Regions from separate parts of the Homo sapiens genome. Here all the other regions are linked to region 1. Evidence: fine-mapped expression QTL. A gene starts in region 1. Each other region holds a variant in brackets. All regions are shown on one strand. Distances are between the middles of the regions.

Region 1 (10,222 bases):
GTGGAATAATTCAGTTTAGTTTTAAATTTATGAGCTCCATTTAACGCAGCATCAATTTTTGCGGCAGTGACATATATGACAAAAGCTGTAGGGTTTTGTTTTGTTTTTTACTAGGAAGAAGGTTCTGACGTGCACTGCAATAAATTTGAAAAATAACTGACATAACACACTACTGATGCACTGAATTACAAGAGCCCAGAGCAGTTTTTGGACAGTTTGATAACTGATTTAATTGTGAAGTTATCCACCTTTGGTTGAACAGAAAATGCTGGCCAGAAGACATTTTGTTCCCTTTATTCACAAAGAATACCCTGCATAACCAGGCGTGGTGGCTCACTCCTATAATCCCAGCACTTTGGGAGGCTGAGGCAGACAGATCACCTGAGGTCAGGAGTTCGAGACCAGCCTGGCTAACATGGTGAAACCCCGTCTCTACTAAAAATACAAAAATTAGCCAGGCGTTGTGGTATACACCTGTAATCCTAGCTAACTGGGACCCTGAGGCATGAGAATCATTTGAACCCGGGAAGTGGAGGTTGCAGCGAGGCAAGATCACGCCACTGCACTCCAGCCCGGGCAACAGAGAGCGACTCTGTCTCAAAAACAAACAAACAAACAAAAAAGCAAAGAATACCCTGCATCAAAATGAGACAGTAACCCTAACAGCTTTGACTCGCATATTTAAATCCATCTGTTTGGCCACGGTTAAAAATAACAAAATAATCATGATAGTTATGATTATGGCTCCCTGAAAGATTTCACAACTGGCTGCTCAACTGTGATTTTTTTTTTTCTTAATTTTGGAGCTAATATGACTTTCTAAGGAAATCTCTGAAAATAAAAACGTCATTACGCAACATTTCTTGCCTATGTTTTCGCCTTGAAGCGACGTTTCTTTAATAAAGAATCAAGACACAGACCCAAACATGAATGAATATGCATTCATTAATTCACTCCTTCATCGTTTTGAAAAGGTAATTCAAACTAGGCCAGAGACACGTAATAACATCTTTGAAAAGACAGGCTGGGCACCCAGGGCTCACTCATGTAATCCTAGCACTTTGGGAGGTCAAGGTGGGTCGACTGCTTGAGCCCAGGAGTTCAAGACCAGCCTGAGCAACATGGTGAGAACCCGCCTCTACTAAAAATACAAAAATTAACCGGGCATGTTGGTGCATGACTGTAGTCCCAGGGAAGGCTGAGGTGGGAGGATCATTTGAACCTGGGAGGCAGAGGCTACAGTGAGCCGAGACTGCACCACTGCACTCCATCCAGGGCGGCAGAGCGAGACCCTGTCTCAAAAAAAAAAAGAAAAAAGAAAAGACAGAGTGCTGAATGAGGTCTTCTTTCAGTTAACAGTTTGAAAATTATGCTGGTTTGGGATATAAACGAAAAGTTAATTTTAATGTAACAAATTATCAACATAATCTAAATTTACTTATACAAATATTTTATGAATAGGAAAGGTTTTAAAAGAAGTCAGCTAGTCAGTAACTGAGGGGAAAAATGACCTTGTTCTGATTTATCTCACGGTGGAACAGGGAGCTACAAAAAGACTACATAAACAGTTAATTAACTGTCCCTCGGTGAACTTGTTCCCAAAAAAATGTCAGTGATGCCCTTGAAATTAGGCACTATTGATCTGGAACTTCAGTGTGTCCTGGATTTCAAATCAACATTTATCCATTAAGGCCAGATGACCTTAATTTTTATTTTATTTATTTATTTTTGAGATGGAGTTTTGCTCTAGTCGCCCAGGCTGGAGTGCAATAACGAGATCTCAGCTCACTGCAACCTCCGCCTCCTGGGTTCAAGCGATTCTCCTGCCTCAGCCTCCCAAGTAGCTGAGATTACAGGTGCCCACCACCACACCCGGCAATTTTTTTGTATTTTTAGTAGAAATGGGGTTTCACCATGTTAGCCAGGCTGGTCTCCAACTCCTGACCTCAGGTGATCTGCGTGCCTCAGCCTCCTAAAGTGCTTGGATTACAGGTGTGAGCCACCAAGCCTGGCCGACCTTAATTTTTAAAGTTGCTCTTGGAAATATGACAGTTGTTGGTCACAGGAATTTAACCAAAAACTGATCCTACCTTTCTCAATAACTCAAACATCTTTTAAGTATTCCGTGTTTTCCTACACCATATCTGCCTCATAAACATGGACTGAGAAAGAGAAATATTGGTTTAAATTAAGTATGTAAAATTACTGCTATTATTCAAACTGTGAATCAAATTTAGAGTTTTGGTATATTCAAGTCCCTAAACTAGGACTAGTTTCTTGGAAAGAAAGTGTAAATCTGAATTTGGCACATAAGGATAACATCCTAAAGATACTCTTCTTTACTGAACCGTCTGGCTTTTGCAGCCCCATCTTTTGGTATTACAAATGCAGTTGGAACACTATCAGCCAAGGAACACTACCGTGAGTTCACATTAGCCCACAGGAACTCCACTCCACAGCTCTATCCTACTGAAAAAGTACACTGGAAAATACAGTATGTTTTATGTACTCCCCATAGAACATAAATAGAAAAGACTTGTTCACCATTATTGCAGAGCCATTTGCAATTTCTGTGTCTTAAGCCAAAATACAAACCAAAATTAAAATGTTGTCTTTCCAATAAAGCGAATTTTCCTTTCTCAAAAAGCCTGCTATTTTATCCACTCTATTTAATTTTTTCAGGAACTAACAACAATACAGACCCAGGTATGTCATAAACAACAGCACAACCAAACACTTCTTTCTAGTTCTGAAACCTAATGATCATTTGGCTAGAAAGATAGAGAACCCCATCTATAGTCCTCTATCCCTTTTCCTGACTTGGGTTTACTAGACCTACTGTTGTGGCTTCTTTCTTTCTCCATCTCCTGGAAATGCCTTTTCCCTTCAGGGGCCTGGGATACGGATTTTGACTCACAATGAAGTCCACTCCCATTTCCTCCAGACCTGGCAACAGTAGGATCCTCACTGCTGAGGAGGAACTTCGGTGAAGGAAAGGGGAAACTTGACTCAGGAGTCTCAGCGCTTACTTTTTTTTTTTTTTTTTTTTTTTCCTTCCTGCTCCAAAAGAGAGCCTTAAAGCACTGATGAGAGGGTCCTGAATCGGTGTATGGAGTCAATTTCCCCGCCCCCTCGAGAAAGTCAATCACACCCAGTTAGTGACCTGGGCACACAAAATCTCCACATAGGAAAAAGACAGGGTTTGAAATAGGAAATAAACAAAAATCAGAATTCTATTCTTTCACTTCTTAAAAGTATCTTTTTCCTCCCGCAATTGCTTTCTCAAAATACCAAACTTGGACTTTGAAATCAAGTTCTTTTTCTATTGCTCTCCGCAGTTCTTACTGAAAGCAAGGATTTGTTTTGGTCCCACATGTTGAAAACTTCACGTCCCTATAATTAAGAGTTTATATGCCACGCCTTCCACCGCGTTTCCCTGTTAAAACTCCCTTCTCTAAAAAAGATCCCTGAAAACACAACTACCAGCTCGCCCCTCAAGCAGCCACAGGAAACAGATCTGAAGATTCTCAGCAGCCATCCTAACCTCTCCAGATATAAAGCTGGCAGCTGAAGGGATTTCTCGGTTAAAATGAGTGAATACTAGTTGCAGTTTTAGAAGTGTGCCCCCAAGAGACGAGTTTTCCCGCAAGCTCATAATTAATAAACACCCCAAGTGAATTTCTCACATCCTGACTGGATTACACAAAAGGATATTTTACATTGATATATAAGACTAACATTGATATTCTTTTAATATATAATAGGCCACAAGGAGACAAAAAAATACAAAACTTTTTTTTTCTTTTCAACGAGCATAATTTTTGAGTCGATGATCCATAATTTTTTGTGGCATTTTTAAATGCCTCAATACACACAGACAGAGAGACACACACGCCCCTCTGGTTGGGGTTCTCAGGTATTACCGGGAGCCTAGGGTGTGGGGGTCTAAGGATACAGACAAGACCTAAACGTCCAATCCTGGAGTATTCTTCACGTACAAGCTCGGTCCAAGCCCCAGGAGTTAAGCCCTACCCCTCCACCCCCACCACCCCCAAAAAGTGCCCGTTCCCATTGGGAAACAGGAGTGAGTTGCACAAGGAAATCGACCCGGGGAAGAGGAGGAGCAGCTGCAACAGCCAGCTGCAGCCACACAACGGTGCCACTTCCCTCCCGTCTGGGAGTGGAGCAAAACGCCCTTACCTGGGGGGTGGAGAGCCGCCGGCACTAGTTCCAAAAGTTCTGGTCCACCTCCTCTCGGAGTTCAAAGCCCCAGCACTCCGGCCCGGCCGCCAGCTCGCAGCACACGAGTCCTTCCCCGTCCTTTCCCCACCCTGCCTGCACTACACCATGTCAGGAATCCGGGCAGGCACCGAGCTGGGAGCTGACATCACTCCCAGTTCCAGGTACCTCCCCCTCCCACTGCCGCCCTTCTCTCCTCCCTCCCTGCAGGAATCAGCCAAAGAGAGTCAGCAGTGGGGCGGGGCCGGGGGCGCCTGCGCGCCCGCTGATTGGAGCCGGGGAACGTCACTCAGAGGAGTCCACTAATTTTATGCATTCCTCGCTGAGCCAGACTAGGGCTGGAAGTGGGTGGATGGAAGAAAATGCTGCCCTTCCTGCTATCTCTAAGGAACGGAGATAATCCGATGGGGAAGAACCTGGCGGGTCGAGTTTTAAACTTTTCTTGTTGTAGTTACTGAGATTCCAGATCAGAAACGAAACTAACCCACGCGAACCCCCTTTTTAAGGAGAAACAATTGCCTCGGTGTCACAGGCACACGGGCATGTACAAGCCCGGCGGCGCGTGGTGTAGAAAATGGCTAGCTTTAAGCCATGCAAATAAAGGAAAACGTCAGCTCACCCTTCTGCCCTTTTATCCTGGGACTGCTGGGTGTTCCCTTAGACGGGGAATGTAGAACTTCAAAAGCACTTCAGAAAGATTTGGAAGAGACTCCTGAAAACGGTGACCGAGCTTTGAATTGTTAAGTGGTGGTGTTGTCAGCCATGTGGCTGCTGTTGCTTTTAGCGATGAAAATCACACCACACAAGCTTCTCGGGCAAGTAAAATTGAATCTCTGAAGCAAGAAAAATGTATTTCCCCGTTTAAAGACCTTAAGGCTGCTGTTTCAATGCACACACTGAAAAGGGTGGAGGAAGGAGGGACCTCACAATTGAGTTCCACAAACCACATGAGAATAATTACTGTAGAATGGAACCAATTGTAGTGGCTGAGCTCTCAATTAAGAATTAACTAACGTTTATCCTTGACAGATATCATGCGGTATAATCCCCTTGGCTGACAGAAGAAAAAGATTCTCAGAAAATGGTTCTTTCAAGGCAGATGCTGCTTACAGGCAGACCTGAATGGTGAAAAGCAGCTTTATTTGTATGAGATATAGGTAGCATATAACCCACCATCTTCTAAAAATATAGTGAATTAATAACTTTCTCTTTTTTTTCTTCTTTTTTTAAACAGGTCACTCTGCCACCCAGGCTGGAGTGCAGTGGCATGATCTGGCTCACTGCAACCTCCTTCTCCTGGGTTCAAGTGATTCTACTGCCTCAGCCTCCGAGTAGCTGAGACTACAGGCGCCCACCACCACACCCGGCTGATTTTTGTATTTTCAGTAGAGACGGGGTTTCCGCCATATTGGCCAGACTGGTCTCGAAATCCTGACCTCAGGTGATCCACCCTCTTCGGCCTCCCAAACTGCTGGGATTACAGGCGTGAGCCACCACACCAGGCCTCATTGTTTTTTGATTGATGACATGCCATACATTTACCGATCTGCCAAAAATTGTAGAGGGATGCACAGAATCCAGCATTGTGTCTTGTTTAATCTTCTCAATCATCCTGTAAATTGAGTGTTACTAGCCCTATTTTAACGTAAGGAATCAAAGGCTCAGCAAAGTTATGTAAGTAAATTTCTCCAAATCAGCTAGAACTTGGATTGAAACCGAGGTCTATTTGACTCCAAAGCCATTGATTTTCTTTCTATATCTCAAGTATTGAGTGTCCATAATTTATACTTTTTCAAACAATAGAATGCTACAAGAAATCCACAGGCTTGGGCCACTGCTCTCACAGACCTACTTTATATAATTACCATCTTGTTGCTTGTCAGACCTGCAGTATTCCAAACTCCTGACTTGAATTTCTGACTCCAGTTTCCCCCAGTTCTAATTATTTCTCTGTACCACTCACTACCGATGAGTTTTCTAAAATGTTTGGTTTTGTCATCAACATCTTCCCCTCTAAATCAGGTCCCCCTTTCCCTGCAATTCTTATCTAGCCATTTAAAACTCTCTCTTATCCTGCTTCTTACCTTTCCCAGCTTATCTCCCACTTCGCTCCCAGGAAACCCTCTCTGTAGTCAAACAGGTCTACTCACAGATCCCTGCTTCGTTCTCACCTTTCAGCCTAACCGAAATCCCCACTCCTCTGTGGGTTAAGTCCCACCCTTCTCTCAAAGCCTAATTAAATTAAAGTCCTTGTCCTCTGCCAAGACTTAGCTGTGTGTTACAGTGGACAGAGAAAAGGACTCAAGGTTCTTGGCCTGGCTCTGCCACTTAGCTATTGGGTAACTTTGGGCAAGTCACTAAAACATCCATCCCGAATCTCAGTTACCTCCTCTTTAAAATAGGGCTGACAATACCTATGTTAAAGGTTGTTATAAGGATTGAGATTGTACAGATGTGTAAACATGTGGTTATACATGTCCAGTTAAATGCCTTTCCTGCCTTCCCAAACTCTGAAGAGCAAGCATCTTGCTTATAGGACCTCTTTATATTCCTTATACCCAATTCAAGGAAAAGGCTCAATAAAAATATAGGGCATGAGAAAATAGATCATTGTATCATTTCTATTCTCTTCCATTCTTTAAATGCAGTCTATCCCCAAATAATCTCTCAGACAAAAACTTTAACTGTTTCTTCTTGTTCTTTTTTTCCTCTCTCTTTCTCTCTTTTTATGCCAGAAGGGCCAGAGCCCTTCTGTTCTCCCACACCCCTACCCACCGTTCGTTCAACACCCTTAACTTCCTCAGATCACTTCTGGACCAACTACTTCACCTGTCTCTTAATTAACTACTGACCCTTCCCTGTCCCACAGTCAGGGACACAACTTGTCCATCAGTGTCTGTTGCCTGCCTTGCTCCCAGATGCCTTCAAACGGAGGCTGGGTGGCTACCAGCCATTCCTCCAGCCCTAGTCAGGACGGCTGCAGCCAGGCTCACATTTTTCCAAAACTACAGCCAGCCACAGGAGATGGGGGAGGGAATGTCCCACCCCCACAGAGATGGCAGGATAGAAAAACAGGAAGTCGCCTCCCATCCTTTCTGCAGCTGGAGTGATAACAGCTGCCATCCAGAATCCAGAAAACAAAAGACTCAAAGGGAAGGCTGAAAACGGGCCAGGTCTGGAGCAGTAACATTCAAGCTAGAGGTTACAGAGTGGGTGAGGGAGGAACCAATGGTTGAGATTTCAGCCTCCTTCTACCTCCCTTTAACCAGAGTTACAGCTCTTTTATCTGCTCTACATTTAGGCTTCACCATGATACTTCATTTTTTGAAGACAGTGTAACCCTTAAATAAACATACTGAAATCACTGGCCTCTGGGTGTCTTGGGGAAACTCCAAAAAAATCAGGATAGTGCAGCAGAAGCAAGACAGGATGCCTGATGAGCAGGTAGCCAGAACTTACTCCTCACTATCCCGGCTCCTGGCTGGCTTAGTGCAAATGATCATTTATGATTCCTATGATTTCAACGCTAATTTATTCTGTAGGTCTAGATATTTTCTGCCTAGTTATTCCTATGACTAACCTTACCTTTGGTAACTTTTTGCCAAAGAGTATCACTATTGCGGGGTAGGGAGCAAGAGACACTGCAGAGCAGGAGAACACCTGCTCAATTAGAACTTGAAATGGATCCTAAAAGTCATTTGATGCAACCACTATTAAAATGCAAGAAACCCTTCTTCAGCATTCCTTACAGGTAGCTTCCAACCCCTGCTTGAACTTATCTGGCAACCAGTAACACACAAAATAAGCAAGCAGCCCACCATTAAAGATCTTTCTCGGTTGGGCGTGGTGGCTCACGCTTGTAATCCCAGCACTTTGGGAGGCCGAGGTGGGCGGATCACCTGAGGTCAGGAGTTCGAGACCAGCCTGACCAACATGGAGAAACCCCGTCTCTACTAAAAATAGAAAAAAAATTCGCCAGGCGTGATGGCGCATGCCTGTAATCCCAGCTACTCGGGAGGCTGAGGTGGGAGAATTGCTTGAACCTGGGAGGCTGAGGTTGCGGTGAGCCGAGATCGCACCATTGCACTCCAGCCTGGGCAACAAGAGCAAAACTCCATCTCAAAAAAAAAAAAAAAGGGATCTTTCTCATATCCATCTGGATCCTGCTTTACTGACTTTCTCCCCAAAGACATCTGTCTTGTGTCTCATTTAATCCTCACAAACATCCTGTAAGGTAAGTGTTATTAGCATCATTTTGACATGAGGAATCACTCTCCAGGGTTATACAAGTAAATTGCTCCAGATTCCCCCAGAACTGGGATTGAAACCAAGGTCTATTTGATTCCAAACCTATTTTGTCTTTCTGTGTCTGAAGCATTGATTGTCCACAATTTACACTCTCACTTCTGCCCTTTGCAGTAACAGAACAAGCTGACTCTTTAGTTACACCATCCCCAAATCTGAGCAGGCTTGAGGACACCTCCCTTTCTTTGGATGCAGGTACCAGAAGAGGCTCACCCTACTCATCAAATCCACAGCATTTGCCTGTCTGGTCTTTACAGGCTTCCAGCTGCAGCTCTCTAAAGCACAACCCTGATCACTCCTGACTCTAAACACTTAAATGAGTCTCCCTTTACCAAGGAACAAAACTCATCAAACTTTCTTGACTGGTGTCCAAAAGCCTTCACATCCTTGCCCCCAACTTACCTTTCTGAACTTATTTTCGACTCTTCTTCATATGCCCACACTGCATGCACTGCATGACTTTGCACCCATATTTCCTAATAATACATCCTCACTGTGATTTTTGCCTGTTTCTACAAAAATCTACCTCACAGTGTTGTTGCAAGGATCTGACAAGATGTCATATGCAAGATGACAGAGCACCTTGCCTGACACATCATAGGTGATAAGCAAACATATTTTCCTTTTTCCTACAACATAAAACAATTGTACTATAATTTTTATAGGTGCCTTATGTTCCTTTCTGGCTCCAAGTTTCTTACAGTCCTCAAGAACAGAATGCTAATTTATTTCATCTTTACATCCTTTGTAGGATCTAGAACCATGTTTTGTCCCATAGACATTGATTAAATATTCACTGAATGAATAAGTGAATGAATGCTGTCTTTTGCTTGAAACTCATAACCTGCTATGGTCTAGGTCTTCAGAAGTTCAGGAATAACTTGACCAGACTGATCACAAAGGATCTGGGTGCCTCCAGTTGTTGTTATCCCAGTCACACTGCCAAACACAGAGTGGGTTAAACACATGGTATAAATCATGAACCCAAATCCAAATCAAACAAGCTTAGCTTTAGAATTCCTTCTAAAGGAAATTACTGCTTATTCTGTCTGATCCTAAGCGTGGCATTGGTGATAATCCAGACGTTATTTTAATATCCTTTCATTGAATACTAAGCCACTACCTAGCTATCACCATTGACATCATTTCTGAATCCAACCCTCCTCCCCATTCCCTTCTTGCCCATAGAGACAGGTTAGAAATAGGCACAATATCTTGCTCCAAGTGGGGAGTCTTATTTTAATCACTTTTTCCTTACAACCCAATTGTGCTGGTTATTCTCTGGTTACCCACCAGATACATCTAAAAATCTAGTTACATTCAACTTACTCATTTTATTAGTCTATTTATAAGTTGAAAAATTTTAATTAAAAATAAGGATAATTGGTTTTCATGGTCTTTGATTAATGTTCAACGAATGACTAAACTAAACAAATTACATTCTCTTCAACAATTAACCTCATTACAAACTTCCTTAATTGAATCTCCTAAAAAGTATGTCTGGTTTCTGTATTCTGAGACAGGTCAACAAGATAGGGAGCCAGCCTTTTCAATACACAGGAGCAATTCCTGTTTTTCATTGCATGTAGGTGATCTGCATAATGTTTGCCCCAAGCAGCCCAAGCCTTTCTACAGCTGTCAAGCCTTTGGGTGGGAGAGCCCCGCCATCCTTCCTATC
Region 2 (10,222 bases), 50 kb before region 1:
GTGCTTTTTATTTTATGTTCTACCAAGTCTGTGTCTTCCTTCTCAGTGCCAAATGAAGATTTGCTCACTGCCTGCCACACCGCGTCTAAATCCTACAGCCACCTATGTTATTCATACTACTCTTAGAATTTACAGGTTTTAAAAGGGCGAGCAGATACAAACACTCCTAGACTTAATGAGTAGACTCACTAGAGTCAAGTAACTTTACTCCTGGAAAAAAATTCACACACACTGAGAGGAAATTGCAGGTTTTAGAGAGTCTGAAATGAACCATGGCCAGAAGTGAGTTCACTTACATTTTTAAAAAGCAGGTTTAAAGCTGATTTATTTCAGTTCTTCAAATCTTGGATGTACTCAGCAAAGTGATCCACACGTTCTTTTATACTGAAAAGAAACAAATACAAAAACGACAAGTTAAAATTATAGCACATCAGAAAAAATAAAAGTGGCAAATGGCTGATTATATAAAGAATATTAAACTAGATAACATGAGTGTAATTAAAAACAACAAAACGTGTTAAGGACTTCCTTCCATTCATCCTTTCTCTCCTATCCTCCTTCTTCCTTCTTCCCCGTCCAGCACTCCACCCTTCTCTCCCTTCCTTCCTCAGTTACTGGACAACCTCAAATATTCCCTGATGACTAATTTTTCTGCTGAAGCCACCATCATTAATTTTTATAGCACAAAGTAGTAGTAGCACATGGTAGGTACTCTATGAATGTTTGTTGAGTAAATGAATGAACCACGGTTTTGCAATATTTTGTCGTTAAGGTAAAAAAAAATGGGAAATGTCCACAATTTATTATTTTGTTGTCCAACAGGAACAAGTTGTATAAAATATGTAGAAATACATACACTATTTTTCAGACTTGCATTTTTGATTCTCTTATCTCTTGAATAACTCATACTTAGGGGAAAATCCCCACTAGTATATACAGGAACATATATCCTCACCATGATACAGTAATAAAATATATTTTGGTACTAAAAGAATATTTAAGAACAGTGAACGTTCCTTTTGAGATGCCCTCTCTTCAAATACTTCAGAACTAACTGCATCCAAAGGAGAAAGCAAGGTGTCTCCAAGTTAAATACCAGAGATATTCCCATACATGTTTTACAAATGCATAAAGAGTCAGGGCCAGTTCTAGACAAAATTATGACGTATGGATGTGGCTGTTTCCTTCCTTCTATCTGTCCTTGTGAGGATTCATTAACCCCAGATGTTTAATCAAGTAGGGAAGCAAAAGGATCAGCTCCAAGGTTGCAACAACTTAATGGATATCCTTCATGAGGACATTTTTTATTAAAAAAAAAAAAAGCTTCAGAAAAGGCAGGTGCTTAACAGTGAAATAAAATGCATTACTGGCTATGGCATTTCAGGAATGAATGGGGGTGTGGATTTTCATCGTGGAATTTCTCAACACCCCATCAAATCACATCAGGTAAGTATCTGTCCATTCCTCTTTCTCCTACCACTGGCTTCATATATGGCCCATATATACACACCAATCCCAGCAAATTTTAAGCAACTTATTATATGTAAACAGGCAAGCTCAATTTTAAGACTAGGGTGCGCTCTGAAAGTAAACAGTCATGTTAATGAGCAGTTTTCAAAGTGAGCTCCTAGGACTCCCACCCTAAGATGCTTCAGAGAGCAGAGGCAGAAGTGAGTGGATGTGCAGCCATGGGCACAGCGATTTCACTTTCATCTGTTTCAGACTTAGACACAAGATTTAGTTGGAGAAGTGGTGCCTTGAGCTGTTTATGAAAGAGCTGAAACAATCAATGTTACCAAAGAATAATTAGATTAAAATCTAGTGCAGAAAATCCCAGTCAGTCCACAACACAGCTGATCTAACACCAAAATCCAACCGCCACCTGTCATAGGGCCTTTATGGTAAAATACAAGTCCCAGCCTGAGCCCCAGGGCAGAGGTCAGTCCGGGTCTGAGCAGACAGGAGCTGGGCCTTCTCTTCTTCCCTACTTAGCCCCCTCATCTCCTGCTCTGGAACGTAATGAGCAGAAGGAAGGGCACCTACACTTCCATGAGGACTGAGTCAACAGTAAGAGGGCAAGATTAGGCTGCAGGGGGAGGCTGCAGATGTTCACAAGATGGATAAGCAAAGGTCTCCAGCAGAGAACAAGACATGGCGGGTTTCTGCAAGTCAGTCACTTCCCAGGCCCTGTCCCGATCCCCACCAGCCTCTTTGCTGGGAATTCCATGTGCAAGGTTTACACGCTTCACCTGGATCAGGGCTCTTGGCTAGGAATAAGAAAGGAGAAAATTAGTAGAATAGTTTAAAAAGAAGAAGAAGACAAAAACCTATGTTCTATAAAATCCAATTCAAAACAATATGTTAAATGAAAAAAAAAGCGGTGGGGGATGGGGCAGAGATGGGAGGAGGATTATGAGAAAATAAGTATTGCCTGAATGTGCTCCAGAGAAATTCACATTAACTAACAGGCACTGAGTATATTCAATCCCTCCCTCAGCACAGAGCTCTGATTATTTGGCCTAACCAGGACTGAATACACAAAAACATTTATAAACATGAACCATTATATTTTTTGAGTTTTCATCATAGGACTTGTTTAAGTAAGTCAAAGATGTTCTTTGTTCTACAGTTTTGATCAAATGAAGAGACTTTAGTCATTTCCTCAGAAACAGACTTAAGCTATAAATACTAACTAACCAACATAGCCACTCGCAAAAAATCTCAATGACAAGTTTAATTTGAAAACAAGAACACATTATCGAACTGAAAAGTAAGCCATAAAAAAATCCAAACCCATGCAAACAGCATTTCTAGAAGAAAAACCCTTAGTGAAATGACAAGCATAAATACAAATAGCTTGTTATTTGACTCACAAACCTATCCCATACATAGAGAAGCAAAAAAGAAACCAGTCTATATTTGGGTCCATTTAATCAAACAAACTCTTAACATCCTGCCCACAACCTCAGGTCTCAAATTCCAAGATAATTCTCCAACTGTTAAATAAGTGATTTCTATGGATCTCTTTGAGATAAAAAACACATTTGTTACTATTGCTTATTTTCTAAATCCCTTTGCTATCCTAAAGTATGACCATCATGAGACTAACATGTTAAACAATCATTAAAAATCAAAGTTTCTGTTTATCATAATACATAATGCCATATCTCAGCCTTCAAAATGAAATGGAATCTATAGTCTCCTTTCAGATATGACTTAAGTGTCTAAAGCAAGGGTCTGTAAGAAGGCCAAATGTGGGTCTGCCACCTGTTTTTGTAAATAAAATTTTATTGGAACACAGCCACACCCATACATTTACATTTTGTCTGTGGTTGATTTTTCCAAGACACAATAACAGAGTTGAGTAGTAGCAACAGAGACCATAAGATCCACAAGTATAAAATGTTTATATCTGGCCTTTTAAGAAAAGATTTGCTGACCTCTGGTCTAAAAAGCCTGCTACTTCAGTAGACTGTCTTAAAATAAGAAATGCTAATCCTGGTATAGTCATGTTGCTGGATAATTACCTAAGTCACTTAACCTTTAACTGCTTTAATTTTTTCATTTATGATACACTAATTGTGATATTCGTTGGGAACTTATATACCAGGGAATATTTTAAGAGCTTTGCTCTTAGTAAATAAACAACAAATCTGTTCATTTAATTCTGACAAATATCCTAGGAAAGAAGTAAATTATTTCCACCTTCTAAATGAGATAATCAAGGCAGAGGGGTTAAATAACTTGTCCAAGGTTAAGTAGTGGAGAAATCAGGACCAGAACCCAGGCAGTCCAGCTCCTGAGCTCATTTCTTAATCTTTATGCTACGTTGATAATACTTTCCATTTTATAAATTATACAAAATAAAATCTCAAAAGGTCTGTTAGTTATGTTAGGTCAATCCAGTAAAATATACCTCTGCATAATTTAGGTTAAGATACCAAAAATAAGACTATACATGGACTTCCATGGACTTTTAAGACCCATCTAAGATTAGAGCTAATCTTGGGGTACTGGGAATATAAAAGCTTATCATTCTTTATTTTTTAGCATAAGTAATCAAAGAATCAAGCTAACTGACCAATATCTATCTTTTCCTTGGTAAGTAAGGCCTCTCCAGGAAGTTCAGGCCCTTCAGAAAGGCTTCAGGAGGAAGACTTAGCAGAGAGACTCTAAATCTTCCAAGTTTGTTCCCATCTAGTCTTACCCCCCACCAAGTTTCCATCTGAGAAAACGTTGAGTAAGCATCAACAGACTTTACGGAAAGATTGTTCTCATAGCCTGGCAAAAAGAGCTCTATCCAGCCACAACCATCACATGGTCAGGAAGATGTCCCCTTGCTGAATCACCCCCACCACTTCCTGAAGTTCTCTGGGATTTTGGGAGGAAATATGTCACCTAAATGTGACTCAGTGCCCTTCTGTACTGAAAGATAGGTTTATATGATTCCAAATAAATCGAGAGAAAACATAGCACTAAATTACTCATCACCAAGTCATGTGCAGAGATGGTCTTAATCTTTTTGTTGTTTTGGGCTTTTTTTTTTTTTTTTAAGAGACAGGGTCTCACTTTGTCATCCAAGCTGGAGTGCAGTGGTACAATCACAACTCACTACAGCCTCGAAAGCCTGGGCTCCAGCAATCCTCTTGCTTCAGTCTCCTGAGTAGCTAGGAATACAGGTGTGCAAGCTTGACTAGTTTATTATTTTATTTTTTTGTACTGATGAGGTCTCACTTTGTAACCCAGGCTGGTTTCTAACTCCTGGTTTCAAGTAGTACTTCCATCTCAGCCTCCCAAAATGCTGGGATTACAGGCATGGGCCACTGCACCCGCCGGCTTTTAACCTTCTTTTTAATCACGCTAGTCTCCAACTGGTTTTCAATGTCTGCAGAGTAAAGTCTAGATCCTTGAGTTTGACTTTAAAGACCTTCCACATCTTGTCTTTCTAACTTTTCCAACCTCATCTCCTTCCATGTTTGGTCTTCATGCCTCCAGGATGGCCGGCTTTTTCTTCAGTATATCATATCTACTCCTGTTTCTGAGGCCATACTCATTCTGTACCCTTTGTTAAAGACCCTATTTTCTCCTCTACTACCAACATCAAAACCTATACTAGCAACACACTCAAAACCATATTTGTGGCTCAAATATGGTTTTGGCTTCTTAGATCTTGCCCAAATCATGAAGCCTTTTCATATTATGTCCCTATGTAGTCTTCCTTTTCTCTCATTGCCAACACCCGTTACTATTTCCACCACCCATTCATTC[G/A]GGTATTTAATCATGTATTAATGTTCACTGTTTAAATATTCCAAAAGTCTGTTTTGCTTTCTCAATAAGACATTGTTTCTCAAATAACAGATTCTTTCAAATAGATGCTTGGCATTTTCAAATTGTAGATGAAGAGTCCTTGACAAGTAGAGCTAACTTAGCTGAGAAGCAAATTCAAATCACAAGCTTGGGCTGTGTTAGTTACATGGAGCCCAGCCAACCAATAAACATCTGCATTCCAAGAAAGCTTTGTTTTCTGACTATCTAGTAACTCTTATGAGCAAACTTCAAACTTATTTCTTTGTGGGATTGTTAGAAAAAAGCCAGCGGTCAGTCCTAGCAATGAAAGTGAAGATCAAGTGGTACAAGAAAGTGATAGCCCTTAGCCAATAAAATAAATAGACATTAAAGAGATGAAGAAATTACATGTTATGGTATATCTGCAAATCTAAGGATGGATGAGGGCTTGGGATTCATGCCTTATGCTTTAAAGGGTTTAGTGTGCAGTTTTTTCTGTGTTCCCACAGTACTAAGCACTGTGTTGTAAATACTAGCTCAATGAATAATCTGATAATCCCATGTCCCAAAGTCCTCAGTGAACCCATTTTCCATGCCAAAATAAAAGTCACTGTAGTCAATTTCCCTCGAGGTTGCAAAATTTTAGTATTTGCAATATCTATTGACATATTACATCAAACAGGCCCACATGTTTTTAAATTAACATGTTGCTTTGCAATCATATTTGAAGTGTTTAGTAATGGCTTGCTTTCTTTGCCAATACTGCCAAATTATTTTTATTTTCCACAGTAAAATCCTAATTCAAAGATTCTGAGCAATTGTGGAATTCAAAAGTTGTCATTCTTTGAAAATTTTGACTGAATTGACTGAAATGATTAAAGTCTGCCATAAAGTTTTATATAAAAGTAAACATATGTAGAGTAATATGCTGTGTGAGACTGTACTGGCAGCCTAGTGAAGGAAAGAACATGGTTCAGCTTCCTGGTATACCAATTATATACCAATTTTTCTTTGTGGCAAATACTTTAAAACTTTATTTTATATGAGAATAATATGGACTGAAGTGCAAAATTTACATAACAATGTATTAAAACTATATAAAAATATGAATTATAGCATAAAAATTACATAACAATATATTTAAACAGTGGGTTTCAATTCAGTTGGGGGCAAGAACTTTAGAGTAGATGTTCTCATTATTTGTACATTTCTTGAAGCATCAGGGTAGAAATCAGAGATTGCGGATTACAGTCAGTCATCATGTCCTCAGAGGAAAAAAGCATTCTATAAATGTCCTGAAATATGTTCTATCTTTTTGAAAATGTGAGAGAAATGACTGCGCCACTCTCAAAATTCAGGCACCCATACCTAAGAAATCCTGTAAAATCAAGTATTTCCACTAAATCACTAACCAATGTGTTACTGCAAATATCACTCAAAAAATATGAAGTCAAACCACTGAGATCCCACAAGCATTGTGAAAGGCCATTCTGAACTAATGTGAAATTTGTATAGTGATTGAATAAAAACAATGACTTCAGCCCACTGGTATATAACACTTTATCATGTCGGTAGAACTGCAGGAACTAACACACCCCAGTGAGGTCATCATAGGTCTGAAAAGTGGGTTGGCTCATTATGAATTCTATCATTACTGACCCAGCAAGAACAGTAGAGACTCTTTCCCATAAAATGCCCCACATGGAATAGGCACATTTTCATTGTCAGATTACAACCATGTTCTCTGCATCATGTGTGTTTGAGGGAAAAAAAAATGGATTGGTGGGTTCATCTCCTCCCCCATTTTCCCTCTCATTTTACCACGGACCAGATTGATACATGCTTTTTCGGTGGGTAAATTGGCAATTGACAATGCTCATCAAAAGCCCTAAAAATATAATAGCCTTTGGCCCTTCATTCTACATTTATTAGACTTACAAGAAAAACCTGGAAAAATGAGCAACGATGAATATATACTCCTTTCACAAGAATGTTATAATATTTATAATTAAAAAATGGAAACAATCCAATGTTTGTACACTGAGGTACATCCATCAGAATATTAAGCAGAACCAGGTTACAGGAGTGGTTACCAATAATTCATGACACAGAAGGACCCTCATAATATACTAAAGGATCTGCTTTTTCATAAATATACACACACATAAAAGTCAGGAAGAATATGGTTTTCAACACTTTCTTCTTCCCCTTCATCACAGATCCCAGAGCAGTCTACTACCAGTAACATCTTTAATTAGAGAGAGATGTGGGAGGGGAGATGAAAGGAGAGGTATATGCACATTTTATTTTTTTATTTTTTTATTTTTATTTTTTTCTTTGAGACAGAGTCTCACTGTCGCCCAGGCTAGAGTGCAGTGGTGCCATCTCGGCTAACTGCAAGCTCTGCCTCCCGGGTTCACGCCATTCTCCTGCCTCAGCCTCCCGAGTAGCTGGGACTACAGGCGCCCGCCACCACAACCGGCTAATTTTTTTTTGTATTTTTCGTAGAGACAGGGTTTCACTGTGTTAGCCAGGATGGTCTCGATCTCCGGACCTCATGATCTGCCCACCTTGGCCTTATGTACATTTTTTCAAAACCCTTCCCACCCCCAGTCAGTGGGTCTTGTGTCTCCCTCTGAGGTATGCTATCATATGACAACATGTTGACAGTGGTTGTTACTGTGTGGCAGGATTTCAGATTAATTAAATGTGATTTAATTTTTCATTTTGTTTATCTGTACTTTATAATTTTATTATAAACATTAGGTATTGTTTTTGTCAAAGGAAGCAAGCAAGATGACTTAGAGGGTAGAATTTGAAATCAATCAGCCTGACTTTTAATACCCCATGTCCACAACTTTTAGCTATATGATCTGTCAAGTTACTTAGCCTAGCTAAGCCTCAAGTTTTCTCATCCAACAAATAGGCAGAATAGTATCCAGCTATTTTATTATTAGGGAAGCTAACAGAACTGCATATTCGATAAAGGAATGATTACTATATAGTATGTAAAATACAACTTTATTTAAGTGTATATATTTTAAGAAAAAAATTGAAATCCTAGTCTTATTGGGAAAGAAAATAAATATATGGTGAAAATTTCATCTGCAATGGTAACCAAAAATGCATATTAAACAGCCATGAGTTACCATTTTACATATACCAAAACACACAAAAAATCCTAACTCTCACCGGTGGCGATGTTGTAGAACTCTAAATAACAATAACTAATTGGAAATATCTGAATATCCATTATTAGAGGGATGGTAAATGGTTTAATTAATTTGGGGAAGTCAAAGCAATAAAATTAAGAAATTATCAAGGCTATAATGCTAAAGACCATGGAGAACAGGATCTAAAATATCTAAACTTGGAAACTGTATAAAATGTAGGCTGGACGCGGTGGCTCACACCGGTAATCCCAGCACTTTGGGAGGCCGAGGCAGGTGGATCATGAGGTCAGGAGTTTGAGACCAGCCTGTCCAATATGGTGAAACCCTGTCTCCACTAAAAAATACAAAAAAGTAGCTGGGCATGGTAGCCAGTGCCTGTAATCCCAGTTACTCGGGAGGCTGAGGCAGGAGAATTGCTTGAACCCCCTGGGAGGCAGAGGTTGCAGTTAGCCGAGATTGTACCATTGCACTCCAGCCTGGGCAACAGGGCAAGACTCCGTCTCAAAAACAAACAAACAAAAAAATGTAGATATATGCACAGGAATGATTGAGGTGAGTAGGAACATGTGAGAATGAGGAAGGGAGACTTTTTGACAGAGAGCCAGTGGGCAGGAAAGCAGAGGGGTGAATTAAAGAGTGCCTCAGCAGTCAGACCAGAAGGCATAGTCAGCCATCCAACTATTTATGTATAGCCATACAACTATTTGTGTTGTATGAAAGATAATACGAGACTTCTACTTTGTAGGTGTGTTTACAGTATTTAATATATCAGTGCAATAATGTGTGTATTATTTATAATAAATATACATACTGAAGGAGATGCTCACAAGTTTGATGACAGCAGTACCCTGATGAAAAAGGTTCAGAGCCCACTGCAGAAGGCTTTAAAGCGGGAGAAAAATCAACATCAAATTAGAATTTCAAAAAGATCATTCTGGAGACCACACCAGAGGATGAATTTGGAGGCAGGGGATGCAATTATGGTTTCAGGGCCATGAACTAGCAGTGAGAATGCAGGGAAGAGTAAAACTGAGAAAAGCATTTAGGGGATTCAGTTGGGGCATGAAGAAGCAGACATCACTGATGACTCTATGACTCTGGTTTCTGACCTTTTTCTCTGTGGTAACAGAGAATTCAGAAGACATAAAATAAAGTGGCAGGGGGTGCATAATTAAATTTTTATCACATTTGAGTTCAAAAAGCCTATGGAACCTCTTGGTGAATACATATACAATGTAGTTGGAAAAACAGGTCCAGAAAGTTTAGTAAAAATCCCTGGGTTCATTCATGGTTGAACTTCATCTGTTTAAAAGTGGTCAGCAACAAGATGGGTTATTGATAAATTCACTGGGAAAGAACACAGGTCATGGAAGCAAAGCCATTAAATAATTTTAGGAAGGAAGTTTCTAGAAGACGGGAGAAGTCTGGGAGAGGCTGGAAGGAGAAGGCTGGCTAGGGAAGCCGGCTCTGTTAAGTGACCCACTACACCCACAAGCACTCCGTGATTGAGAACATCCTGGCATCATATCTGCTTCCAAAGCAAAACAAGGCCCCTCCACTTCCATCCCTCATCCTTACACAGTTGGAAGCTGAATGAGATGGGCTTGGTGAAGAAAGATGTAACACTGGCATTCTTAACTTCTACAGAAAGCAGTAATTAAACACACTATCCTAAGCTTAATATATCACTTAAGAACACTCTCCCCTGCAAACTTTGATTTTTAAATAGTCAACCAATACAAAAAAGAATACAGCAGTACTTT
Region 3 (10,222 bases), 120 kb before region 1:
AAAATAACACTTCCCAGTAAACCCTTAGGCTTTTAAATTGTGGTCTCTTATAAAATGGGGCAAAATATTACCTATCATAGTTATACAATTACACCTTAATAATGGCACAATATTTCACTTAGATGATATCTATTTTCTTCTTATGAATTAGGTCATGAACTGTTTGACATTATTCAGCAACATATTTGTGATTCCTCAACTAACAGGTCAGAATTCAAGTCTAAAGAAAAAAATCAGCTTTTCCCAGTTATCTAAGCTAATCATCCTTGCATAATATGAGTCCTTAGTGATATTCATCAATATGATCTTTCTAAATATATATTTTCCTACTTTCTCATTGCTAAGAAATACCATTGAATTCTTATCTGCTATTGTATTTTACAGCTTCCTTTCTTCTTTGCTCGTGCAAAGAAGAAACCACTGAAAAAAATGGAATTGTAAACTGGGATAATTTATCTGTTTTAACAAAAAACTACTCAACTATATTTCATGGCAATACTTTAAATATGGTCTAAATTTCCAACCTGAAATAAATCACATCTTCCCCTGACAACACAAGCTGGAAAATCTGGAAATGGCTCCCTAATGTAAAACTTTAAAAAACAGAATACAAACTATTTCAATCAATTTCTTATCAGAAGTTCAGTCCTTTTAAAAAAGAAAATTCCTGTTCCCTTTCTCTTTTCCCTTTCAGAGAATTCAGGGCTCCTGCAGGAACTCAGTCTCTGACATGTATGCTCTTACCACAAGGGGGCACTGTTGAATGATGCTAATCATCTCCCATTAGCAATTCCAGGGACAAGTCCTGAATCTTCCAAAGTTTAAAGACTTGTACCCTCAGTCCTTTGGAAATGCCTATACTTCTTCCCCATGCCAATATTTTCTTGGAAATTAATATCCAAATATAAATCTAAAATTCTAAGAGAAAGTTAAATATTATGGATTCATGAAACACCCAGAAAAATATTTTTATTAAGGGGACGATAACAAGAACATGAGAATATTCAAGTTAGTTTAATGTTGAAGATTATTTTAATTATTTTCATATGTAACATCACAAAGTTTACCACATATGCTCTAATCTCCGGGTCTGTGCATACGTTTTAGAAATAACACTGAATTTTTATTAGATTATCAGGGATTGAGTGTACAGGAAGTTTGATGACAAGATCACTTTGTATGTGATTGAGAGTGCATGAGTGAAACAATGAAAAAGTGGGGAAAAGAGATTTGATTAAAAAAAGCAGCCAAACTCAAGGGATATAAATATTACCCTAGGCGCTTACAACAATAAGTAACACATCTACTGCAATTTAGCCCCAACATTTGGTTAACATCTCATATACAAATTAAGTTAACAACAGGTGAATATTTCCCCTTGACTTTGTGGACGCAATGTAGAAGACCACCTCTATCCATATCTACCATCAATTCTTCCCTGCAGCAGAGCTAGCTCCACTGCCATGTTGCCCATCTGTTGACTGAGTTTTACTATTACTTTACCCTGCGACTATGGGGTTAGGACCTGACAAAAAGAGGGGAAAGAGGAAAATATCAAAGAGATTTTTAGAGAAAATACAAAACCAAGAATTTTAAATTGGGTAACTTTCTAAGTCCTGTTTTAAGAGCCCCAGCTTCTATCAAATGAGAAACATGCTCACACAGGCAACTGACAAAGAGTTTTAAAATTAAAACATGGCTGGGCATGGTGACTCATGCCTGTAACCTCAGTGCTTTTGGGAGGCCAAAATGGGAGAATTGCTTGAGGCCAGGAGTTCCATACTAGCCTGGGCAACACAGTAAGATCCTATCTCTTAAAAAAAAAAAAAAAGATTAAAACATGAACCAAATGAAAGACTTCCTTTTGCTATGGAGGAAGCAAGACATATACCAAGACTTTCCACTGTAATTGAATCTTTGACAGAAAATTTAATTTTGAAAATAGCAGTGGAGTAAAACTTGTTATTTCCAATATAAAGAACTTTCCTATGGTGGATAATGTATGTAATGCCTGGTATCATGCTGGCTTATAGTCAGCGTGAAATACATGATTGAAATAAAAACAGAAGGGAAAAATAAGTAAACCATTTTCTCTCCTCTCTCCTTGGTACCCATTTTCTAATCCAGCATGACACCCTTCCATACTCCAACCAAGGAAACAAAATAGGAAGCAAAAAGGAGGGGAGATGGCTCTCAGAGAAAAGAAATTTCTGCAACTCTTTATACTTCATTTCAAATGTATGTTTCAAATGGATATGCTCTCTGTCTCCATCAAAAACCAACAGAGAGGTTAAGAACTTGCCAAATGTCACAAAGCAAACAAACTAGGAGGCCTGAATTAACAAAATAGAACAAACAATAAAGCTTGTTAAGCCACTAAAATGGATACTTCAAGTTACAGAATGTACCCTGATTTTTGTAGAAGTACAGTGAGTCTTATTTAATTGGAATGATTTACATGTGGAACAGACCAAAAGTAGAATGCCAAATTAAAAGACCTCAAAAAAGCTCTGTCTGTGATTTTGTGAGTATAGAATGTTAGCATGTTTTCTATACAGATTTTCAAAATCCAATTACATAGTAAATAATCAGTGTGCCTAAATAATAACTACTAGTGAAACCATGTATTTAAGCCCATTATTTACAAAATTAAGAAAAACAGTATGGATGGACGGATGCTCCAAATATCGTAAAGTCAAAAGTATTTCTAAAGGTTAATAAAAAGATTAATACTTCATATCAAAAGTCTAAAAATAAAAATTGCCATTAGCATCTAGTGATAAAAAGTCAATGCAATGAAAGATTATTCTTAAAATGAAGTAGGATGATGGTACGTAGTAATTAACTGCCTTCCTTGCACACCTCCAGGGAATTTCAACTTTGCCCTAGGAATGTATGTGTGTCAGAGACAAAGACAGAGTGACAGAGAGAGAGAGAGAGGGAGGAGAGACTGTATCACTCACCTCTGTGTCTCTGAACTTATCTTCATAATCCAATCTGTCCTTCTCTACAGCTGTCAGTTTCAACTTCAAGTTAGATATTTCAGCCATCAGATCCAACTTCTGAGTTTCTAAGGATGTCCTACTTAGAAGCTCCTATTATAATTTAACAGATACATTCAAGAAGTCTTTTATTATAAACAGGCACGTGAATTTACCTCATTTATGATCGCACAAAGCAGCACCTATCAAGTAGAGGATATAGTGAAGTATAATTACTGAATCTACACACTTTTAAAAAATTATTCACTTGAGGCTGGGCACAGTGGCTCATGCCTGTAATCCCAGCACTTTGGGAGGCCGAGGCAGGCAGATCGCTTGAGGTCAGGAATTTGAGAACCAGCCTGGACAGTATGGTGAAACCCTGTCTCTACTAAAAATACAAAAATTTGCCGGGCATAGTGGCGGGTGCCTGTAACCCCAGCTACTTGAGAGGCTGAGGCAGGAGAATTACTTGAACCCAGGAGGCGGAGGTTACAGGGAGCGGAGATCGCACCATTGCACTCCAGCCTGGGCAACAGACAGAGATTCCATCTCAAAAATAAAATAAAATAAAATAAAAAAGAACTATTCACTTTAGTTACCCTCCTTTGAACAGAAATAAGCACATGTCAGTTTACTGAGGGAGACATATGTTGTGTAGATACACATGCATAAACCATATATATACTTCAGTCTGATGATAACATTGATGATGGTGATACTATGTTTGCTATGTGCCAGGCACCGGTTGTAACAAATACTATTTCAATCCTCACAAAAAACTTATCAGGTAGAAATTCTTATTATCCTTAATCAAAAGATGAGGAAACATAGTAACAGAGAGGTTAGGAACTGGCCTAATGTCATACAGGGAAAAAGAAAAAATAAAAACACAGCAGGAATGGAAACCTACGAGGTTTTGCTCAAGTGCATACTCCATCCATGACCTTACAGAGCCTCTCCTATATGTTAGATATTTTCTTTTCTACTTGTGTGGCTACATAGTAGGAATATACATTTATGGGGTATATGTTTTGATACAGGCATGCAATGTGTAATAATCACATCATGGAAAACGGGGTCTCCATCTTCTCAAGCATTTATCCTTTGTGTTACAAACTATCCAGTTATATTCTTATTTCCAAATGTATAATTAAATTATTATTGGCTATAGTCACCCTGACGTGCTACTAAATACTAGGCCTTATTCATGGAAACTATTATTTTGTACCCCTTCGCCATCCTCCACCTCTCCCTTCATCCCCACTACCCTACCCAGCCTATGGTAACCACCCCTCTACTCTCTATCTCCATGGGTTCAATTGTTTCATTTTTAGATCCCACAAATAAGTAAGAACGTGAGATGTTTGTTTTTCTGGGCTTGGCTTATTTCACACATAATGACCTTCAGTTCCATTCATGTTGTTGCAAATGACTGAATCTCATGCTTTTTTATAGTTGAATAGTACTCCATTGTGTATAAGTACCACATTTTCTTTATCCAGTCATTTGTTGATGGACATTTAAGTTGCTTCCAAATCTTGGTGGCTGTGAACAGAGCTGCAGCAAACTCGGGAGCACAGATATTTCTTCGATATACTGATTTCCTTTCCTTTGGGTATATATCCAGCAGTGGCATTGCTGGATCATATGGTAGCTCTATTTTCAGTTTTTTGAGGAACCTCCAAACTGTTCTCCATAGCAGTTGTATGAATTTACATTCCCACCAACAGTGTACAAGGGTTCCCTTTTCTTCACATCTTTGCCAGCATTTCTTATTGCCTGTCTTTTGGATAAAAGCCATTTTAGCTGGGGTGAGATAGTATCTCATTACAGTTTTGATTTGCATTTCTCTGATGAGCAATGATGTTGAGCACCTTTTCATATGTCTGTTTGCCATTTGTATGTCTTCTTTTGAGAAATGTCTATTCAAATATTTTACCCATTTTTAAACTGGATTATTAGATTTTTTACTATTATATTTTTTCTTAATTATAAAACACATGCTATGGGTGAGAGGAAACCATCTGAATGCAAAAAAAGAAAATTAAAATAAGCCACAATCCTATTGACATTTTGTTCCAGATTCTAATTACATAAACACTTTATATTGTGTGCATGTGTTTTGAGACTCTACTACTCTCAATTTTTTTTTTTTAATGTGCTGGTCTAAATGAATCAAGAAACTTACTGCTGCATCAGAGCAAACACAACATAGAAATGCAGCATCTCACATAGTTCAGCAGGGAAATCCCATCTTGGTTCTGGCCTCTGCACATACCTGCTGCAGCATTTCTTCTGTGGCATTCACCTTCTCTCTGTGCTCTTCAAGACAAAACTCCAAATCTCGAATCTTCTCTCCCTGAGCCTCCACCTGGTCTGTTAACACACTTACCTGTATTTAGAGCAAAATAATGCAATGAGTGAAAAAGAATTTGGGTCCCACTGCATACGTTATTTCTCTAAATGGAACAAAAAAAGGAATGATCCTACCATTCATACGGTTATAAAGAAAAAAAAATCTGAGAAGTACCAAGAAGACAGTGGTCCCTCACATTCCTATTTATATGTTGCTATTTGATTTAAGGAGGCCTATACAATTTGGAGAAAATTCGTGTAGATTAGGAATGTACAATACTTTTTGGTTAAAGCTACTTCAACCATTTATGAAAGACAGCATGT[A/G]CAGAAGTTATCTTTTTAGGGGGCAGCGTGGAGATAGTATAAGAGAGGAAACAAAGTTAATGTTTGAAATAGAAATTATCAAAAATTTGATACTTCAAGGAGAATAAGAAAAAGAACCTGGCCAGGGGTAGGGGGGAGAGGTAGCATGCACGGTGGCTCACGCCTGTAATCCCAGCACTTTGGGAGGCTGAGGCGGGCAGATCACTTGAAGTCAGGAGTTCAAGACCAGCCTGGCCAACACGGTGAAACCCCATCTCTACTAAAAATACAAAATTAGCTGGCTGTGGGGGCATGTGCCTGTAATCCCAGTTACTCAGGAGGCTGAGGCAGGAGAATCGCTTGGATCCGGGAGGTGGAGGTTGCAGTGAGCCAAGATTGTGCCACTGCACTCCCGTCTCGGCAACAGAGCGAGACTCCGTCCAAAACAAAAACAAAAACAAAACCCAGGGAATTCAAATTCCATGAGCTCTTTGAAGATGACACAGATCATAGATGTGTTCAAAGTCAGGGGGGGCAACTCAATATACCCAAAGGTGCCTGAGGAGCTGTTGGGCTAGTCCTTCAACTCTAGTGCTTACAGCAGATCTTTGAGTTTTTCCTCAATAATCATCACTCAGTAAATATACTTCAATTCATTTTGCTCAATATACCAAAGAAAAATGTTTGTGAAGCATTTAAAACATTATGAAGAAGCAAACTCAAATTTAGCCCACAAGGAGGGTTCTAGTCACTGTTTTGTTTTGTCTCACACAGGGTAACATTTTTAAAATTGAAAAATTAAATATATATATTCTGATTTCAGATTCAGAAATATAAACTTACATATATTCAGATGTTATGCTATATTCATATATCTGAATTTCTGCTATATATTAAAATATACTTAAAAATCAGATCCAGTGAAGCATGGTGCTGCACACCTGTAATCCCAGCTACTTGGGAGGCTGAGGTAGGAGGGTTGCTTGAGCCTAGGAGTTCAAGACTAGCCTGGGCAATGTAACAAGACCCCGCCTCCAAAAAAAAAAAAAAAAAAGAACAGATCAGACAACATTGTGCCCGTATTCAGACTGGTCCTGCAAGAGCTGAGGATGATTAATGGTAGCTCCTTTTAAACTGGGTGTAAACACCATCATTCTGCCCCAATCCTCACCACTCCCTATTGTGTACAGATGGCTTATCAGGCTTATTTCTATTAGCAGTCTGATTGCTGCAAGCAATCTGAATTTGCCACCCCAATTTAAAAGGCTTTGTAAGTATGCTGCAAGGAAAGAACAGTATTTAAAAATCACTTGCCTGAAGAACGAGGGATTCTTTATCATTTTCTAAACGTGCCAGCCTTTCTTGATACACATCTCCGTTCCCTGGTAGGTGTCCATTTGTCTGAAAAAGGAAGTAATATGGGTAAGGCTGATCTTCTCTAAGAATGATATATCGTAGATAAATGAAAATCACAAGTGTTCTTAGTCCAAGGGGCCTGAATTGAATCTGCACAGCTGTCACTGTCAAACAGAAAATACGAGAATGCAATTTGGTTCATTTACCACAAAAGAGGTAAGACAGGCATGTTAAGCATATAGGCATGTTTTGCCAAAGTAAACAATTTCTTATCAAGCAGAAAATAATGACCCACAAGGAACAGTGGATACTGGTATTCTTCACTGAGAGCAGACACACACCCAGGGGCAGGCAAAGCTTTGTGAGTATGTAGGGGGCACCCCGAGTTGTTGAGGTCTGTCTCTCTTCCTCCAAAAGCTTAAACACTCAGGCCACAGTGACTTCCCCTGGTAGCGCAGACTAGCCTCACTTATCTCCATTTTAACACTTTTTGTCCTGATCTTATTAACTTGTGAGTTTGCTTCTTTGTATAACGTTACCTTCTATTCCAGGGCAGAGCCTATAATTCGTTTGGTAACCTCCCCAGCATCTGGCTCAGTGCTCTGTGTATATTGATGCTTACTATTTCTTCCCCTCCCTCCTGCCCCCCACACTTTTTTAAAAAAAAATCATGTTTCAGTATATTTATGCGTGGTATAAATGCCAAAGGAAGTATAGATTGAGAAACGATGTATAGATTGTTTCTTCCTCAGCTGCCTCACATGCAAGTCATGAAAAAGACACACAAAGAGGCTCACAAAGAACAGAAAACCTAAAAGCACCACTTTGAAACGTACGTAGTAGCATAAGTGGTGTCTCTCATAATCTCAACATAACCATAAGATAATGTAATCCCAATAGAATTTCCTGATTCTTCATTCAAATACAATAGAAATAAAAGCCAGCTGAAATCCGAAAGTGTTAGATGGGGCCACCCAGGGTTCAACTGAAAAAGAAAATAATACCTTCAGATTTAGAACCAGAAAAAATACAAACTGTATAACTTTACTGCCCAGGACACATCTGATGTGACATCTACTGTTTTTCCAGAATTAACTGATACCATTGTTCTATCTTTCCAATAAATGCAGTTTCTAGTATCAATTCTTGGAATAATAAAAGTCATGTGCTGGGAAGGGGGAAGAAAAAAAACAGGGCTTGAATGAAAAGGAAAATTTCAGAATGTTTTTTCTAAAAACTTTAGCATACTGAATACATTTTCCAAAAGGCCACTAAGAATCAGAGGCTAATTTAGTAAGGGTGCAATGCATATTTAGAGTGGATTAAAATTTTAAAATCAGCTGCTTTGCCACATACCTCTACAATTACCACGGCATAATTCTGCTCATATTGTTAACTGAAGTGCCCAGCATTAAATTACAAGTATTATGAAGAGTGTGATGGAGTGGCCTGGACAACTTCCATTCCTGGGGACTAACATAAAAATAAATTGTGCACAACTTCTCAAGGGCAGTTTTTTGGAAAAGAGCCAGGATGAATAACGCATGTTCTCAATCTTAAGAAAGTGCCAAGACAGGCCCTGTAGAGCTTTAAATTCCTTATTTTGATTATGGACATTAACAGCCATCTGTTTTTAAAATCCCATACAAGTAACAATAGTTTGGAAACAGATACATTTCAGTAAGTAGAAAAAAACTGCTGTTTAGTGAGGACAAAAAGTAAAACTGGCCAAGGGTGGTGGTGCATACCTGTAATTCCAGCACTTCGGGAGGCTGAGAATTGTGTGAGCCCAGAAGTTTGAGGCCAGCATAGGCAACATGGCAAGACCCTATCTCTTAAAAAAAAAAAAAAAAAAAAAAAAACTTAGCCAAGCTTGGTGGTGTGCGCCTGTGGTCCTAGTTACTCTGGAGACTGAGGGAGGGGGATCACTTGAGCCCAGGAGGTGGAGGCTACAGTCAGCCATGTTTGCGCCACTGCACTCCAGGCTGGGCAACAAAGCAAGACTCTGTCTTAAGAAAACAAACAAACAAACTGATCTTTCTTCTGGTTGGAGGAAATTATAGCAAGATGAGAGCAATGTTTCCTCCCAAGCTACTTTGTATGATATGGAAGTGAGGTGTTCCAAAACCAGTTCTCCAAAATTAGCCCCAAATAGAAACAGATACTGAAAATTGGCTCAAAATTAGCATATTTATTTTTCTCAGTACTGTATTGATATTTACAAGCACTCATAATGCTCAAGGGTAGTTTAGTATATTAAAAGTCACTATAGGAACATAAGGCAGAATTTAAGAGTGATCAATGTTATATCCTTGTGTTAACTTAAGTAGGTAAAGACTGTTCTGTCCACCTGTGTTTATATTTCTGCCAATTTTGTTTCCTTTGCATTAAGAATGTTGGCAGTAAGATCCATTAGGTAAATACCCTATTGTCTCTATTCTTCCTTCAACTCCCACGTTCTACCTACCAGGTCACTCAAAACCTCCCCATATATGGCATGCTCTTTCACACACTACTTTTATTCCTTCTGCACGGACCGTCTTTTCCCACCCTTTCTTCTTCTTTCCCCATTCCTTAAGGTCCACCTCTATCAGGGCTTGGTCTGTGAGGTCTTCCTTGAATTCACTGTTTGCTATATGCCAGCGACAGTATCTACATGAACCTTCATTACAGCAGGCATTACTCTGAATGCACTAAGGTTAGACTTGACTGCATACATGTCTCTCTCTTCTAATAGACTCTGCATTCTTTGCAAGTAGATTTGCCTTGGCATGTGACATACAGTGGGCGATAACTAAATGTCTGTTGAATGGAAGAATGACGATAGGTGTTCAATAAACACTAGTTGAATACAAGATGACTGCAGGTTTGGTTTTGATCTGCCCTTCTTGCTTCTCAGTGGGTCTTTATTTATGTGTCCTCTATAATCTGGTATGCACGCCATGGTTGACCTCTATCTAGACTGGCTCCTTTTTCCTCCTGTACTCTCTCTTCCCACTATGTTTAGGAGGTGATCTCAGAGCCTTTGTCAGCACCACGCTCTAACCAACTGAGCTAACCGACCGCCTGATCTCAGAGCCTTTGTAATGGACAATAGTTAAGGCCATCTTGTGTGAGCTCCCTTAGACACCTTCTTCCTCAGTGCGTAATAGTATAATATATATTACCTCTTATTTCTTTCCTTTCTTTCGTCCTGCAGGCTTGGGAGAACTGATTCTTAACTC

What was found. PIP is the estimated chance that this variant, and not a neighbour inherited with it, causes the effect.
Region 2: its variant is fine-mapped to the expression of PPFIBP1 in tibial nerve (GTEx, PIP above 0.99).
Region 3: its variant is fine-mapped to the expression of PPFIBP1 in testis (GTEx, PIP 0.94).

The regions. Positions count from the first base shown.
Region 1 is chr12:27,518,344-27,528,565 of GRCh38, reverse strand. PPFIBP1 (PPFIB scaffold protein 1) reads right to left here and starts at 4,360. Exons shown (of 30, transcript NM_003622.4): 1 at 4,201-4,360. RefSeq lists enhancers at 3,738-4,338, 4,585-5,044, 4,942-5,543.
Region 2 is chr12:27,568,314-27,578,535 of GRCh38, reverse strand. PPFIBP1 (PPFIB scaffold protein 1) reads right to left here. Exons shown (of 30, transcript NM_003622.4): 2 at 297-384. Among named protein-coding and RNA genes, the nearest start is that of PPFIBP1, 49 kb to the right of the region's middle. RefSeq lists an enhancer at 4,226-4,520. The variant G/A (reference allele first, on the strand shown) is at 5,269.
Region 3 is chr12:27,642,883-27,653,104 of GRCh38, reverse strand. PPFIBP1 (PPFIB scaffold protein 1) reads right to left here. Exons shown (of 30, transcript NM_003622.4): 5 at 6,957-7,043; 6 at 5,263-5,376; 7 at 2,964-3,095. Among named protein-coding and RNA genes, the nearest start is that of REP15, 48 kb to the left of the region's middle. The variant A/G (reference allele first, on the strand shown) is at 5,664.